Regions from separate parts of the Homo sapiens genome. Here region 2 is linked to region 1. The links come from fine-mapping of genetic effects on gene expression. Tissue or cell type: whole blood. Region 1 holds a variant in brackets; the other region holds the start of a gene. All regions are shown on one strand. Distances are from middle to middle.

Region 1 (8,234 bases):
GGGGAAGTGAAGTTGAGAATTTTTTTTCCTGGAGCTCTTGCACTGGAAAGGGGGCTCCTTCCTGACCGCCTCTCTCTGCTCCCTGTTTTCCTATCTAGACATGGCCTCTGCCCTCCGTAGAAGGTTCCATACCAGCCAACCGGGCCACACCTTCTCCTATACCTGGTCATTTTCTTTCTCTGTCTCCTTCCCTCCCTCCCTCCCTCCCTTTTCTTGATTCCTCCCTTTTCTTGCTTTCTTTCTTGTTCTCTCTTTCTTTCCTTTTTTTTTTTTTTAAAATAAGGTCTTACTCCGTTGCCCAGGCTGGAGTGCAGTGGTGTGATCACCGCTCACTGGAGCCTCAGTCTCCTGGGCTCAAGATATCCCCCTGCCTCAGCTTCCTGAGTAGCTGGGACTATAGGCATGCACCACCACACCCAGCTAACTTTTAATTTTTTTTGTAGAGATGGGGCCTTGCTTTGTTGCCCAGGCTAGTCTTGAACTCCTGGACTCAAGCGATCCTCTTGCCTTAACTTCCCAAAGTGCTGGCATTACAGGCATGAGCCACTGCACCTGGCCTGGTCATTTCCATTTGAAGCTGGATATTGTGAATTTTACCATGCTGGATGCTGGATATTTTTGTATTATTATAAATAATCTTAGGCTGGGTGCGGTAGCTCATGCCTGTAATCCCAACACTTTGGGAGGCCGAGGCAGGCGGATAACTTGAGGCCAGGAGTTCAAGACCAGCCTGGCCAACATGGTGAAACCCCATCTCTACTAAAAATACAAAAATTAGCTGGAATGGTGGCACATGCCTGATTCCAGCGCCCACTGCACTCCAGCCTGGGCGACAGAGCGAGACTCTGCCTCAAAACAAAGCAGAAAAATAAACACATAAATAATCTTGAGCTTTTTTTCTGAGATACAATGAAGCTACTGAGAAACTGTTTGATCTTGTTGGGTCTTGCTTTTATGATTTGTTAGGTGGGCGTGGAGCAGTGCTTAGTCCAGGGCTGAGTTTAGGCTACCCACTGAGTACTGTGCCCAATGGCCAGTGAATCAGGAGTTATGCGTTCTGGCTGGTGGGAGCCCCCTGGGAGCTCCAGCTGCTGTTCTTTACTTCCATGCGGTGGCTTTTCCCTGGCCCCAGGCAGTTTCTCCACACACATGAGGTGAATAACCGAGGAGTCCCTTTGCAGATGTCCAGGGCTGTGTTTTGCCAGCTCTCTCTGTTTAGGTCCTCTGTCCTAAAAACCCTAGCCACCTTGGTCTCCCTGGGCTGTCAGCTGTGTTCCCTTCTCTCAGGGAGTCCACTCTCTTCCACCAGGGTCCCCCCCTTCCCCAGTCCCTGTGTGCTCTGCACCCTGTACATGCGATCAGGGCAGTGAGCCAGGACTGTTGAAGAACTCACCTGTTTCCCACCTCCCGTTCTACTGAAGGCTATGGGCTAGGATGCCCGTCCAGCCTGTGGGCTCAGACTATGGCACCTTTGTGGGCCCCAGGGAATGTCATCTCAAAGATACCTCTGCCCTGAGAGCCCAGCCCTGTGAGGTCTCCCTGAGCCCTTGGTCTGGAAGCAGTGGTGCCCCTGTGTGGGCTGACACTGACTGGCCACTCAGGCTCCATGCAAGGGACATCAGTCCCACGCCAGTCCCTGGCAGCCGAGGCCACAGCTGCCCCACAGCCGCTCTTGCCCCTCCTGCAAAAGGTGTGGTTTGCCTAGCTCAGGGTCTTATCTGCCCTCGCCATGTGAAGAATCTTCTGGCCCCAGACCACCAGGAGACACCACCCCTCACATTTCTTTTTTGAGCACCTGCCAGATGTAGGAAATCTTTTTAGAACTAAGAGAAGATGGAGAGAGAACAGCCAAGTCCTACCCCAGAGAGATTCCCACCTAGTGGAGGGTAAGAGGCCTGCCATCATTGCCACTGGTGGTACAATGCTGGTGCCAAGACTGTGTGCCAGGCTCGTTGCTTCGCGTCCGTTACTTCATCTCAGCAGACAACTCTCAATATCCCCATTCTACGGATGGGGAAATGAGGCTCAGAGAGGTAAGTGACTTGCTCAGGTTCACACAGCTGCACACAGCTGGACATACAGCTGCCCACACAGTAAAATGCAGGATCAGTGGCAGCAGGAGAGAGACTTGCCAGTTGGAGAGCCAGGAAGGTGCACAGAGGAGGTGGCATTGAGCTGGCTCTGGGGATGGGCAGGCCTTTTATAGAGGACTGGGAAGAAGGGCCGGGAACCAACAGTACCCCCCAAGGGAGGTTCGAATCAGGTGCTTGCCCCCAGTTGAGCCAGAGTTGGGGTGTGGAAAGGCTTGGAAAGCAGGAGAGGCTGTGGATGGAGGTGGGAGAGGCTTGGAACTGGGTCTTTGCTATCTCAGGGGCGTGGAAGGGACTTTTGAGTTTGAGAATGACGTGTCTGGAGCTCCCTGGTTCCACGGGGCTGGACCTGCTAGGGCCTGAAGCGGGTTAAGAGCAGAAATCAAAAACAGGTTTGTTTGTGAGTCAGTAGCTGGGAAAATACTGGGAAGCAGGCTTCTTGGAGCTCCCCTTCATCCTCAGCCCTGTGGATTGGGCAGCAGCCCACGCCTCCCTGCCCCAGCCACAGCCCCCCGTCAATGCCGGCGCGCAGCAGCTTTTGCTCATCCTGCCCTGGTTCCAACCCCAAGGCCATGGGGCAGCCCACTGGGCGCCTTCCTGCATGGGTGTCCCCCTTTGCTGCTGTGTCTAGACTGCAGACACAAGTGCTGGCGGGGGCCGGGGGACTGGCCAAAACTAGGGCTGAAATCATGTTCAAAACCACAGTCAAGGCGGACTTGTCAGAAATATTCCTTTCCTTGAGCCGTCGCAGCTCAGCCTCCTTGAATCACCCTGGCCACTTCCTTCCTGTGTATATCTTATGCACGCTAAGGGACGGGGCGGGTGCAACGTGTGTGTTTTTACTTCTTTTAAGTTTTGTCTATGTTTTGTCCTTTCAATGTGTTGTAGGCTGTGGGGGCGGGGCTGTTCCGAGGGGCCTTTGTCACAGTAAGGGACACTGGGGACAGCTCGGGCTTTCTCTTCAAGCTGAAAACCTTTGGTTGTGAGAATGACTAGGAGAAGGGTCTCGCTAGGGTCATGCTTAGGACCCTTCGCAGGTGGTGTGTTTAATCTCAAAACGGCCTCAAGAGGCTCTCGATCTTTTACAGGTGACAAAGAAGACAAGGAAGACAAGGAAGGTGATCCGGGAGGCTGGAGAGCTTGTCAAGGTCACAGACCCACGGTTTTCC[G/A]CCCCCTAGGGTCCAAGCTCTTTCCTGGACATCTGCAGGCAATGTCGACACGCCCTCCAGTGTCTGTGGCGGGCAAAGGATGTGTCTCCACCCCCAGACCTTCCGATCCTGTGCTGAAAGTGTCCCTCAGCCTGTTTCCTGAGAAGCCCAGGGGCTTTTGGCTTGTTACTTTTTCTTTCTCTTGAAGTAAACAGAATAAAAGAGAGTTGCTCAGACGTCTTTGGCTGTGACCCACAGGAGATGATGCAATCTCCACGGCACCCCCACATGCATGTGTATGCACAGGCGTGTACAGATATCTAAAACTGGCACCAATTTCACAAAAACACTCACCCTTATGCGAGACACATTCACCCTACACTCATCCCCCATCTCTACAGAAAATTAAAGTATACATTCATAGTTGCTGTATTCATGCATGTACAGATGTATGTACATTTATTCATGTATGTGTATAACTTATGCCATTTTCATGAAACACTCACCCTACGTGTGATACACTCCTATTTTCTAGGAATCGCCGCCCACTGAGCTTATGTCCAAACCTTAGTGGATCATAGTCTAAGTTTGGCAAACACTGAGCCGGGAGGAGTCATGTCTGCAGGGCCCCAGGAGTCCCTTAATTTGGGTCCTGATCACTCTGCTCCACCCAGTGGAGCAGGCACATGCACTTGGCCCATAAGGAAGGAAAGGAGGGCGGGGGAAAAAGGGAGGGAGGGAGGGAGGGAGGGAAGGAGGGAGCACCTCCACCATCGTAGGCAGGACCTGTGAGAGCTGAACAGGGCCAGGCAGCTAGGCACCACTCTGGGACTCTGGGGTTTCTTAGGGGATGACTTGTTTCTGGGGTCCCAGTAGGAGGAACTCAGGGTGACGCCTCCGAGGATGTGAGTGCATGTGGCAGCCGGGCCCCTCAGCCCCTCTGTGTCCTGGTATCCTCTAAATGCAGATGATGGTGAGAATCCATGCCCAGCCCGTGGCTCGGCCCATCTCTGGGAGAGCGTGTTTACCACAGCACTTGGTGTGGTAGGAGGTGAGCAGGGTGGAAGTGCTTTGCATTCACGTGGGACTTCTGGCTCTCAGTTCATCCCACCCCCAGGGCCCGGCATGAGTGAGGCAAGGGTGGGTGGGAGGGTGCAGGATGTGGGAATGCCATGTGCTGTGCACTGCTCACTTCACCCCTCGCTCGCCCCAGTTGGGGTCCCAGACCAGGAAGCTCCATTCACAGAGGTGTGGCCTGGGGCTACTGCACTGCCCAGCAGGTTGTGGGGTCCCTTTACTCTATGCTGTGTGACAATGTTACCTTCCTGGAAAGAACCCGACCAGCCCCCTTTTGCTAGTCATTACCACAGATAGGAGAGAGAACTAAATATCTAGCCAGCCATCCTCTCGGAGCTCCGGAGCTCAGGTCACCAGGCTTCAGGGACTCGCTGCCATCCTCACAGGCTTAGATCCCTGCTGCAGGGTCAGCTAGGTAACCCCTGAGGGTGGGGTGTTCAAAGTTCAGGCTGCCCCCCAGACGTGTGGAATGCCAGCCCTGACTGCCAGGGCGATCTGAGGTGGACTGACCATCCCCTGGACACTTTCATGAAGTGTGGGCACGGGCGCGACAAGTGGCCATTTATCATCCTTCCCTGCAAAGACTGGGCCAGGTTAGAGATGGACCCCAGCAGTTTCATACCCACCAAGGGCACTGGGAGCTTCCACATAGTCACTGCCAGTAGTGGCTGCTGGCTGGGGAGAGGATCTTGGAATGCTGGTCACTGGAGGCCCTCACAGGTGACTGGGAATGTGGAGGAGCAGCAGGGTGCCTCTTCTCTGCCATGCCTTATGTTGGGGTTTGCTCTGGTTCCCCTCGCAGCCACTTACAGCTCCCCCATTGATGATGGGGCACTGCCAGCCCAAGGCCTGCCTCAAAGTCTAAATATCTGTGGGGTGGGGTGCAGGGAGGCGTGCACCCCAGAAAGCAATCCTGGGATCTCCCTTTCTACCTTAACCTTTCTTCCCACTCGGGGGCTTCCTCCCATGAGTGTTGTCAGGTCTTAGCAAATAAAAATACAGGATACCCAGTTATATTTGAATTTCAAATAAAAATTTGAGTAAGAGTTTAGTATAAGCACATCCCAAATGTTGCATGGATGTTCTGCATTTTATCTGGCAGCTGTACCTGCTAGACCTTGGGCTCTGTGGTCGGGTCTTTGGACATGACATCTGCACGGGCTGGGGGCTGAGGCTGCTGGCCAGGGCGAGCCAGGGCAGGCCACCAGGCTGCAGAACCCACATGCAGAGAATGGATGTGAGGAGAAGGGGCCAGAGGAAACAGGCCCTGCAGGTGCAGGAGAGAGAAGCTGCACACGCTCCCAAGGACCCGAGAGCACTCATGTGGGTGGGCCGTGGTCTCCTGTGGCCTGCTAGGAAATCCCCCTCTGCCTGAGCTCACTTGAGAAGGTCTCTGTTTCCCAAACCCTGTCCCCCATTGCACCCAACCCTGCAGTGAGTCACGAGGAGCTCTCCCATGAGGGGCAGAGGAGGCTCACTCAGTGACCCCTGTGCCACCCCACGTCAGAGGAGATGGGGCTCTCTAGTGGTCCTAGGAGCACCTCATTTCTGTCACATCCCCACCCCTGGGCCCACAGGACATGAGCTTGAAGGGAAATGGGAAGACTGGGCATGAGAGGGAAGGGCCAGGATAGACACACCCCCAGCAGAAGGGCCTGTGTCTTCCTGCTCCCACACAGAGGCCGGGTAACTTGCTTTTTTTACTAACAGGTTGGCCTTAGGGGAAAAGGGGACCTCACCAAAGGAGTGCTACTAGTGGGTCAGCCTAGCTTAGGAGAATTCTGTGTTGGGCTTTGCACCAAAGACCAATTAGTAATTGGAATTTTTCATTTATAACTGAGGATATGGCTCAAGCTAGCTTAAACAGAGAGAGGACACGTATCGGCTGTGTAATGGGTCATAGCTTCAGGCACAGTTGGTTCTAGAAGCTCAAGTTGGATCTGTATTCTCTCTCTCTTTCTCTCTCTCCACAATTCTATTCTGTTTCCCCCCTTTTTAGGCTTCTTCCTCAGACCAGCTCTCCCAGCAGCAAGCTGATCATCAATAACTCCAAGGTCAGAGAAGCTAGAGCTTCCAGAGCGGAGAGCTCAAGAAAGTCCCCATGGTCTTTCTGACTCCTCTCCCTTGGGTCATGTGCCCAGCCCCTTGGCTGGAGAGGCAGAACTGGGACCAGCCCAGTTCTTCACTCAGCCCAGTCACATCTTCACTCTTGTACAGGTAGGAGGTCCATGTACCAATGGGGAATGGGAGTGACCTCTGCAGGCCACACCCATGCTGAATTCTCTGCCTGCCTCCCGAGTGCATGTGTTCCTAAGTGAGGCTGAGTGCGGCTTCAGCTGATCTTAAGTACTTCACAAGAGACCTCTTCTCCATAGCACTCTGCGAGCACCCATTGTTGAGACTTCTAACAAGCCAATCAGATGGCCATGTAATTACAGACAGTTTCCAACTTATGATGGTTCCACTTATAATTTTCCTGATTTTATAATGGTGAGAAAGCAATATGTATTCAGTAGGAAGCGGTAAGATACTCTCTCGATGCCGGACACCAGCCACGTGATCACGATGGTAAACGACCTTATAGGGGACTGTGCGGCCAGACAATTTGCCCAGCTGTAGGCTAAATGAGTGTTCTGAGCATGTGTAAGGTAGGCTGGGATATGATGCTCAGTAGGTTAGGTGTATTACATGCAATTTCACCTTATGAAATCTTCAACCTACAATGGGTTTATTGGGATGTGACCTCATAGTAAGTCCAGGAGCACCTCTATGCAGCTGACAGGTGACAGAGTGCAGCCCCAGGCAGCAAGCCAGCCTCCTGTGAAAGCAGGGTGTAGGTAGAATCAGTCCACAGGCTCCGGCCCTTTGCTGATGGAGACTTTCAGCGCCGACCCCATCTGACTCTCCTCTCCTTCCAGACCCCTGGGAGATGACACTCCTGAATCCCTCACAGGGAGCGAGGTCATGTCATGGATGAAGGCTATGTCACCTCCAGGGGGAGGCATTTACCCGCCAATCTGACTCTCCAGGTCCTCTCATTCTTCCCACCCACAGTGACCATGGAGGAGGCCTCGGGTGGAGACCTGCCACCAGGGCGACTGCTCCTTCAAGAGTTGCCCATGTCTGAAGTGCACTTTATGTGAGGGGAAACGCACCTTCGCTGTGCTCAGCCTTGAGGTTAGGTGCTGTTTGGTGCTGCAGCACGTGTTGGCCTCCCCTGACACCTCAGCTATCCCTGGGCAATCTGAGGCCCCACCGCCCCCATGATAGCTCCTCTGCTCCTTCTCTCAGTCTCTTGGGATCTGCACCATGCCTCCCTCCTCTATCAAATATTCCTGGGCTGGCTGATTGAAATACTAATATGAGCTAATATCTTTTTTTAATTTAAATTGATGAAATTGTATATATGTATGGTATACAACATGATGTGCGATATACAGTATGTATACATTGTGGGTGTCTAAATCAAGCTAATTAACATATCCATTACCTCACCTACATTTTGGTGTAAGAACACTTAAAATGTACTCTCAGCAATTTTCAAGTCTATAATACGTTGTTATTAACTATAGTCGCCATACTGTACAATAGACTTCCTGAATTTATTCCTCCTCTTTAACTGAAATTTTGTATCTTTTTTTTTTCTTTTCTTTTTTTGAGACGGAGTTTCGCTCTTATTGCCCAGGCTGGAGTGCAATGGCATGATCTCGGCTCACGGCAACCTCCGCCTCCCGGTCCAAGCGATTCTCCTGCCTCAGCCTTCCGAGTAGCTGGGATTACAGGCATGCACCACCATGCCCGGCTAATTTTGTAGTTTTAGTAGAGACGGGGTTTCTCCATGTTGGTCAGGCTGGTCTCGAACTCCCGATCTCAGGTGATCCGCCCGTCTTGGCCTCCCAAAGTGTTGGGATAACAGGCG
Region 2 (8,000 bases), 440 kb after region 1:
GGTCAGAGGCCATGACTTGCACACAGCTTGCTCAGAGCAAAGTGCCCCTTCCCTCCTCCACCAGGCTTGGGGGCCACAGGAATTACTTCCTAAGTGGACATCCGCCACCTATAATTCAGTGCAAGGGGTCAAATAGGCCCCTCTGGGAAGTACTACCACACAGGGTCCCAGGGCCTAAGTCAATCGGGAGTCAAAGCCAGGAGCAAACATCAAGGGTGTGCAGGAGAGGATTTCCACGGGGTTGCCCTGGCTGGCACATTCACGCCATGACCAGGACACCAGCCTGTAGTTCACTGAAGTCAACTTTCTCCTCTCCAAACTAACACTCACTTCCGCAGTCTGAGAAGGCACTCAATCCTGAGACTCAAAGTGTGCTAAGAGCCACCTTCCAAAGACATGGAGCCACTGAAGCAATCTCTGCTAGGGAGGCCTACATTCCAGACTCCACAACCTCTGGTCATTCAAGTATGTGCCCCCAACCCTTCCTTAAGTTTCCATCTCTTGGAAGACAGGCATGCGGGAGCGGAGGGGGAGGGGCGGGGGGCGGGGGCGGAGCACACCGGCGCACACACATGCACCCACCTCAACTTGGAGATCCACTCCCAAGGTGGCTCTGACACAGGCCCGCCAAGCCGCGTTTAGCACGCCCCCTGCTGGCCCACAAGAGCTAATTCAACCTTTCTTCCGTGGGCCTAAGGCATGAATAAATGACCTTAATATCCCAAAGGGAACAGAAAGAAAATCAGGGCAATTTTTACTTCTTAGAAACGGAAGATGTGACAGTGATCTCTTTTGGGAAATCACTGACAACTCCCAAATTTAAGCACTCTAAACATACAAGCGGGATGAAGAGGCTTTAAAGCGGTTGTTTTAAAATGTTTTGGGGAAATAAGTGACCCATACCTAAAGATTTAGTGGAAACACTTCCGTTTGAAGTTTTACTAGTACTACAGCGAGTTAAACCATAAACGTGGTGAATATTTTCACGAGTCTACAGGTGAAAACAAAAAGATGGATACGGGGCCAGATTGATTTCACAGACTCCATTTTCAAAGAGTTTGCAATGCAGACCCTGAAAAACCAATCTTCATACTATTGAGGACATGTTGTAAAGAAGAATCTCTGCCACAACTCAAGAGTTAAGTTCTACAGCAACTACACACAGCGGGAGCAGTGTCATCCAAAAGCAGCTCACTTGGAGCCAGTTTCTCATCTCACTTAGGCACACCATTGGGAATAAATGCGGCACCATCAGGAGGTCAGAGGCCAAGAATTACACACACTTGCTCAGAGAAAGGTGTCCCCTCTCCTTCTCCACCAAGCTTGGGGGCCTCAGGAGTTACTTTCTAAGGGAAAACCTGCCATCTATGATCCAGGCCCAAGTGAGACCCGCACGTGGCAATACTTCGTAAAGCGGCGATTTCCACCCATTATCAGCCTGAACACTAAAGGCCTAAGTAACCACTGTTTTCCCATTCTTTTCACACCAATACAGGGTTCAAGAGATTGAAGTTCCTAACCAGGTCCCAACTTTTGAGTGGCATATGGTATTAAATTCCTTACAGATCCAATAAAATCACACTAACAATTTAAGGCATGCTTATTTTAACCAATTAGGAGGTGTCATTAATTATTAAATACAAAAATGTCAATACTTTTGTCCCTTATTGGATATCCTTTCGATATGATAGGCTTGAGTAGATACTCAGATTGCCTTGGGAACTTGCTTAGTTTTGTTCCCATAAGAATTGGTACTAATGGCACACTCACAATAAAATAATGGAGTGTTGATCCCATTTAGTGGGGAATGTTTATCCAGAACTGAGTGTGCCGTGCAGATCTACCTCTGTTCTCGTGAACCCTCTTTGGGTCTTGAAGAGGCCTTTGAAGCTGGTGGGACACACGGCTGCTGGGAGGACCCTAGTGAACCTGCCTCCCCGCCTTCGCCCAGGGCAGGCTTCTCCGGGCACACCCTGGAGGAGGAGGAGGAGGATGGTGAAGGACACCTGCAGATTTTCCTGAAGCAATTAAGACCTGTAAAGATTTAGGCCCCGCTGTCAACCTTTTCCTGGACACATTATCTGCCTCATCATATTTTTAAAAATTGTTCCTCTTACAGCCCACTTCCATTTACAAAGGTATCACCTGGCGGTAACCATGTGCATGTCATACATGACTTTCCCCTGGATCCTTGTGCTGTGGATGAAGCGTTTCCCTGATCGGGGTCTCACAAGTTTCCCTTCAGCTACTCTTAAATCTATACATTCTCAAGCCAATAGACAGAAATAAAAGTCATTTGCACTTGTGTGAGGTAGCTGAGTTTACAGAGCAGAGGCAAATCCATTTTATTACAGAGATTCTCAAAGGGCTGCAATAGCTTCACCGGGAGGGAGGAGGGTACACTTGAGCGGTTGTGTCCAATGAAGGAAAGTTTTAGTTAATGATGACATCACTGACATCTCCCAAATTTAAAGGAGCACTTAAAGCACCGCAGATGCAATTTTTTCCCCTCCAGTGAGGAGATACTAGGGAAGGCCTCTGGGTTCACAGCCAAATTGCCTTAATGGTTTGCCTGCTGTCCAGCGAGACCCAGCAGAGCGAGCGGGACGGCGGTGCGCCGGGCCGCGGGGACCCACGCAGTCACAGCTCCGGTGCCCGGCGAGCGGCCTCGCGCGCGGCTCGGGGCCGGGCCCTGCCCGGCCGTCTGCAAGAGCCGCGGGACCCCCGACGCGCGCGCACGGACCGAGGGGTCGGTCGCCCCACGCCTGGCATCACGTTCCAGTGCGGACAGCCAAAGGGCTGAGCGGAGGCAGCAGCCCCGACCCAGCGGTAGCGCCGCGCCCTGCCCGAGAGAGGCGCGCCACGCCGGGCCGGAGCCGGTGGCCCGGGAGCCCGCGGGGTCCGGAGCGGAGCCCGCAATGCAGACGCGCCGGCGAGCCCAGCCGGGGCCCGCGCCCCCCGCGTCCCCGCGCCCCGGCCCCGCGGTCGCCCGGCCTCAACGCCCACCTGCCTCGCCACGGAGCTCGGGAAGGAGACGGCGCCGGCCCCGCGCCCGGAGAGCGCACCTGCCTGGTCCGCGGGCCCGGCCCCGCCGCCCGCCGGCAGCACCGCGGCCAGCGCCGTCTTACCTGCCGCGCCGCGCCGCTCCGCTCCGCCAGCCCGCAGCGCCGCAGTCGCCGCTACCCGACTTCCATTTTCTCTCGCTTTAAAGGAAAACCAGATCAGCTGTTTTGCTCCCGCTCGGGCTCCGCGGCCCCCTCCCCAGCTGCCGCTCGCGGTCCCGGTGGCCTCTCCTCCCCCGCCTCCTCCCGCGCTCCGCTCCGCCCCTCGCGCCCCTCCGCTCCGCCCGCGGCCGCGCACAACGCCCGCCTCCCGGCTCCGCCTGCTGCCTCCGGGCGCGCGCCCTCCTCTGACGTCACCGGTCGCGTTCGCGCCCCGCCCCCGCCCCGCGCGGACGTGCGCGCGCCGCGCCTGTGCCCCGCCCCCGCCCCTCCGGGGCCGGGCACGGAGAGCGCGTGCTCGCGGCCGCGAGCCGAGGAGGGGACGTACAGCGCCCGCGCGCCCGCGAGCCCGCTCCGGCTCTCCCATGCTTGCCCCTCGGGGTGCTCCTTCTGCGCTCTCCGCCTGGACTGCAGGAAAAGGCTGCTTAAACAGCCTGCCTTTTCCTGCTGCCTGACTCGCGCCATCTGCGGCCACCTGTCTCGTTTCTTCCCCCTGGCTGGCGCACCCTTCCTTCCTAAACATCCCAAACTTTCTCCCACCCAGGCTGTCCAGGCTGCAGTTTCTACGCCCTGCGCTGGGGCCTGTGCATCACGCCTAATCCAAAGCTGGTCCTTTTACCTCCCAAAAAGGTTCTCTGACCTTTTCCCATTTTTTGCCTTCCTCTAAAGACTTTTTCACGCCACCCCTTCAGATGGTTCCCCTCCCTGATGGCAAGACCTGCTCGCTGCTCTGGGCCCTTCTCACGTCACCCTGTAGATGTAGTCACGCTTCCTTATCCCAAACAGGACGTTATATTGCAGATGACCCATACCATCCTGGTGTACTTCTAAACAATCATTATTTTACTTTTAGTTTAGGACTTTTTGCTTGACTTTAAACATTGTATATGTTTAATAGTGTTTAATAATTTATTTGACTTTTAAAATTGATATTCAGTAAAATTGGTTATTTGATATATAATCCTGTGATCTTGAACCCTTGTTTGGATTCATGTAACCACTAGCGCAATAAAGAGCTCCCTAGTTCTGCCCTTTTATAACAGCGCCCCCGCCAACCCTAACTTTTGGTAACCACTGATAGGTTCTCCATTGCTACGGTTTTGTCTTTGTGAGTGTGTCGTATACATGGAATTACGCAATATGTAACATTTTGAAACTGACTTTATTCCCTCATCATTATACCTTGGAGATTCATCCATGTTATTGTGTATAGTAATAGTCCTTTTTATTGTTGAGGGGAGTCTCATTATTTGTACCACATTTTGTTTAGTCACCCACTGGAGAATATTTGCGTGGTTTCCAGTTTTTGGCGACTGTGAATAAACATTCTATAAACATTTGCATGCAGCGTTTTGTACGGACAAATTTTTTAAATTAGTTGACTAAATATCTAGGAGTGCAATTGCTAGATCTTATGGTAAATTTGTTTAACTTTATAAGAACCAAACAGTTTTCTAGAGTGGCTATAGCATTTTTATAACTGTCAGCAAATATGAATCCCTTTCCTTCATCCTCACCAGCACTTGATATTGGCTATCTTTATCTATCTATCTGTCCATCCATCCATCCATCCGTCTATCATCTATAATTTTAGACATTCTAGTAGGCATATAGTGCTATATCGTTGTTAATTTTCAATTTTCTACTGAAAAATTATGTGGAGCAACTTTTCATATGCACCTGTATATCTTCTTTGGTGAGATGTTTGTTCACATCTTTTGCCCATTAAAAAAAAAAGGTTGTTTTCTTATGGTTGAGTTTTAAGAGTTCTTTGTGTATTTTGGATAGAAGTACTTTATCTGATACGTGTTTTGCAGGTATTTTCTTCCAGTGGAAGCTTGTCTTTTCATTCTCTTAACAGTCCTGTCCTGAATTTAGGGGAAGTATCCAGTTTCTTACCACTAAATATGATGTTAGCAGTAGGATTTTTTTAGTTCTTCTTTATCAAGATTAGGAAGTTCTCTCTATTCCTAGTTTGCAGAGTTTTTATCATGAATGAATGTTGGATTTTGCCAAATTCGTTTTCTGCATCTATTGATACGGTCATGTGATTTTATTTTCTTTAGCTTGTTGATATGATGGGTTACATTGATTTTCAATTGATTTTCAAGGAACCGGTCTTGCATACTTGGGTCAAATTCTACTTGGGCATGGTATATAATTGTTTTTATACACCATTGTATTCAATATGCTAATATTTTGTTGAAGACTTTTGCATCTATGTTCATGAGAAATATTTGGCTATAGTTTTCTTTTTTGTAATGTCTTTAATTTATTTTGGTATGCCGGTAATGCTGGCCTCATAAAATGAGTTAAGAAGTAATATTTACTTGTATTTTCTGTAAGAAATTGTAAAGAACCTATATCAATTCTTCCATAAATGTTTGGTAAAATTCCCTGGTGAAACCATCTGAATCTGGTGATTTTTTTGAGACTTCATTAATTATTGATTCTTTGTGGATACAGAGCTATTAGGTGATCTGTTTGCTTTTCTGTAAAATGTAGTTGTATCATTCAAGGAATCGGTCCTTTTTATCTAATATTCAAACTTGTGGGTGTAAAGTTGTTCATCATAAACCTTTATTATTCTTTTAACATCTATGAAATTAGTAGAGATGACGCCTCTTTCATTTTTTGATATTGGCAAACTATGCCCAATGTCTTTTTTTCTTGGTTAACCTGGACAGGTTTATTAATTTTAATCATCTTTTCAGCTTTTTCTTTGTTTTGTTGATTTTTTTCTATTGTTTTCTATTTTCAATTTCATTCTCTAATTTTTATTATTCCTCTTTGTTCTGCTTGTTTTAGGCTTAAATTGCTCTTCTTTCTCTATTATCCAAGGTGACAATTTAGGTTGTTGATTTTAGATTTTTCTTCTTTTCAAATGTATACATTTACTGCTATAAATATCCCCGCTTTTACTGCATCCCACAAATTTAGAAAAGTTGTACTTTAATTTTTATTTAGATCAATGTTTTTAGTTATTCTTGAGATTCCTCTTTGACCCAAATGTTTTTTAAAAATGTGTTGTTTAGTTTCCAATAATTTGGGACTTTCCAGCTATCATTCTGTTCTTGATTTCTAGGTTACTTCCATTGTGGTATGAAGACATACTTTGTTTAATTTCTATTTTTCTTTAATTTGATAAGGTGTGTTTTATAGATCAGAATGTGGCCAATGTTGGTGATTATTCCATGCCAGCTTGAGAAGAATGTGTATTGTGCTATTGCTAGATCTACAAATATCAATTAAATAAAGTTGATAATGCTGTTTAGGTCAATTATATCCTCACCGATTTTTTGCCTATCTGATCTTATCAATCATGGATAGAGAAATGTTGAAGTATCCTATGATAGTGGATTGGACCATTTTTTCTTTCAGGTTTATCATTTTTTCCTCACTTATTTTGACATTTTATTCTTAGGCACATGCATATTTAGGGTTATTATGTATTCTTGGAGAATTAGCCCCTTTATGATTATGAGTTTCTTACCTATCCCTCCCCTCACATCCCTGATAATTTTCCTTTTTCTCAAGTCCCTTTTATCTGAAATTAATGCAGCTACTCCAGTTTTCTTTTGATCAGGGTTAACATGGTATATCTTTCTTCATCCCTTTACTTTTAACCAAACAGATACTTTATATTTAATGTCAACAAGATATAGTGGGGTCTTGTTTTGTTATCTACTCTAGCAATCTGTGTCTTTTAATTGGTGTATTTAGACCATTCACATTTAACACAATTGTTGATCTATTTGGATGAATATCAATCATATTTGTAACTGTTTCCTACTGGTTGCCAGTGGCGGCTTTTTCTGCCTTCTCCGATTTTAATTGAGCATTTTGTGTGGTTCTATTTTATCTTCTCTTAAAGAGTATCAATTATACTTTTTAAAGAATTTTTTAGTGGCCATTCTAGAGTTTCTTTTTTCTTTGCTTTGCTTTTTTTTTAAGACAAAGTCTGGCTCTATTGCCTAGGCTGGAGTGCGGTGGTGCCATCTCGGCTCACTGCATCCTCTGCCTCCTGGGTTCAAGCCATCCTCCCAGCTTAGCCCCCTGAGTAGCTTACCATGCCCAGCTAATCTTTGCAATTTTTGTAGAGACAGGATTTCACCATGTTGTCCAGGCTGGTCTCAAGCTCGTTAGCTCAAGCAATCTGCCTGCCTTGGCCTCCCAAAGTGCTGGGATTACAGGTCTGAGCCATCATGTCCAGCCTAGAGTTTCTAATATAGATTTTCTTCTTTTACTAATGTGTGTTCACCTTCAAATCATGGTATTGTTTCACATGTAACGTAGATATCTTATAAGAGTGTGTTCCCAATCCTCCCTCCCATTCCTCGTAGCATTGCTGTTAGTCTTTTCTCTTATCCATATGCTACAATGACCTGTTACTATTTTTGCTTTAAATAAGAAGTTATCCTTTAAATTATTAATGAAAATAAAAATAAAAGATTTCATTTTACCTCCATTTATTGCTTCTCCAACACTTCCTTTCTTAATATAGATCCAAGTTTCTGACCTACATCATCTTCCTTCTGTCTGGAGAAAATCTTTTAACATTTCTTGAAGGACAGGTCTGATGGTGAATTACCTCAGCAAGTAAGTCCCTATTTTTCTTCTTCTTTTTTTTTTTTTTTTTTTTTTTTTTTGAGACAGAGTCTCGCTCTGTCGCCCAGGCTGGAGTGCAGTGGCGCGACCTCGGCTCACTGCAAGCTCCGCCTCCCGGGTTCACGTCATTCTCCTGCCTCAGCCTCCCAAGTAGCTGGGACTACAGGCGCC

Evidence for each region. PIP is the estimated chance that this variant, and not a neighbour inherited with it, causes the effect.
Region 2: it holds the start of OTUD7A, and the variant in region 1 is fine-mapped to the expression of OTUD7A in whole blood (TOPMed, PIP 0.98).

The regions. Positions count from the first base shown.
Region 1 is chr15:31,432,192-31,440,425 of GRCh38, forward strand. It overlaps a transcript of KLF13 not described here. Among named protein-coding and RNA genes, the nearest start is that of KLF13, 110 kb to the left of the region's middle. RefSeq lists an enhancer at 2,657-3,176. The variant G/A (reference allele first, on the strand shown) is at 3,260.
Region 2 is chr15:31,867,379-31,875,378 of GRCh38, forward strand. It overlaps OTUD7A (OTU deubiquitinase 7A), which reads right to left and starts at 3,295. Exons shown (of 13, transcript NM_001382637.1): 1 at 3,129-3,295. RefSeq lists silencers at 468-762, 3,258-3,327.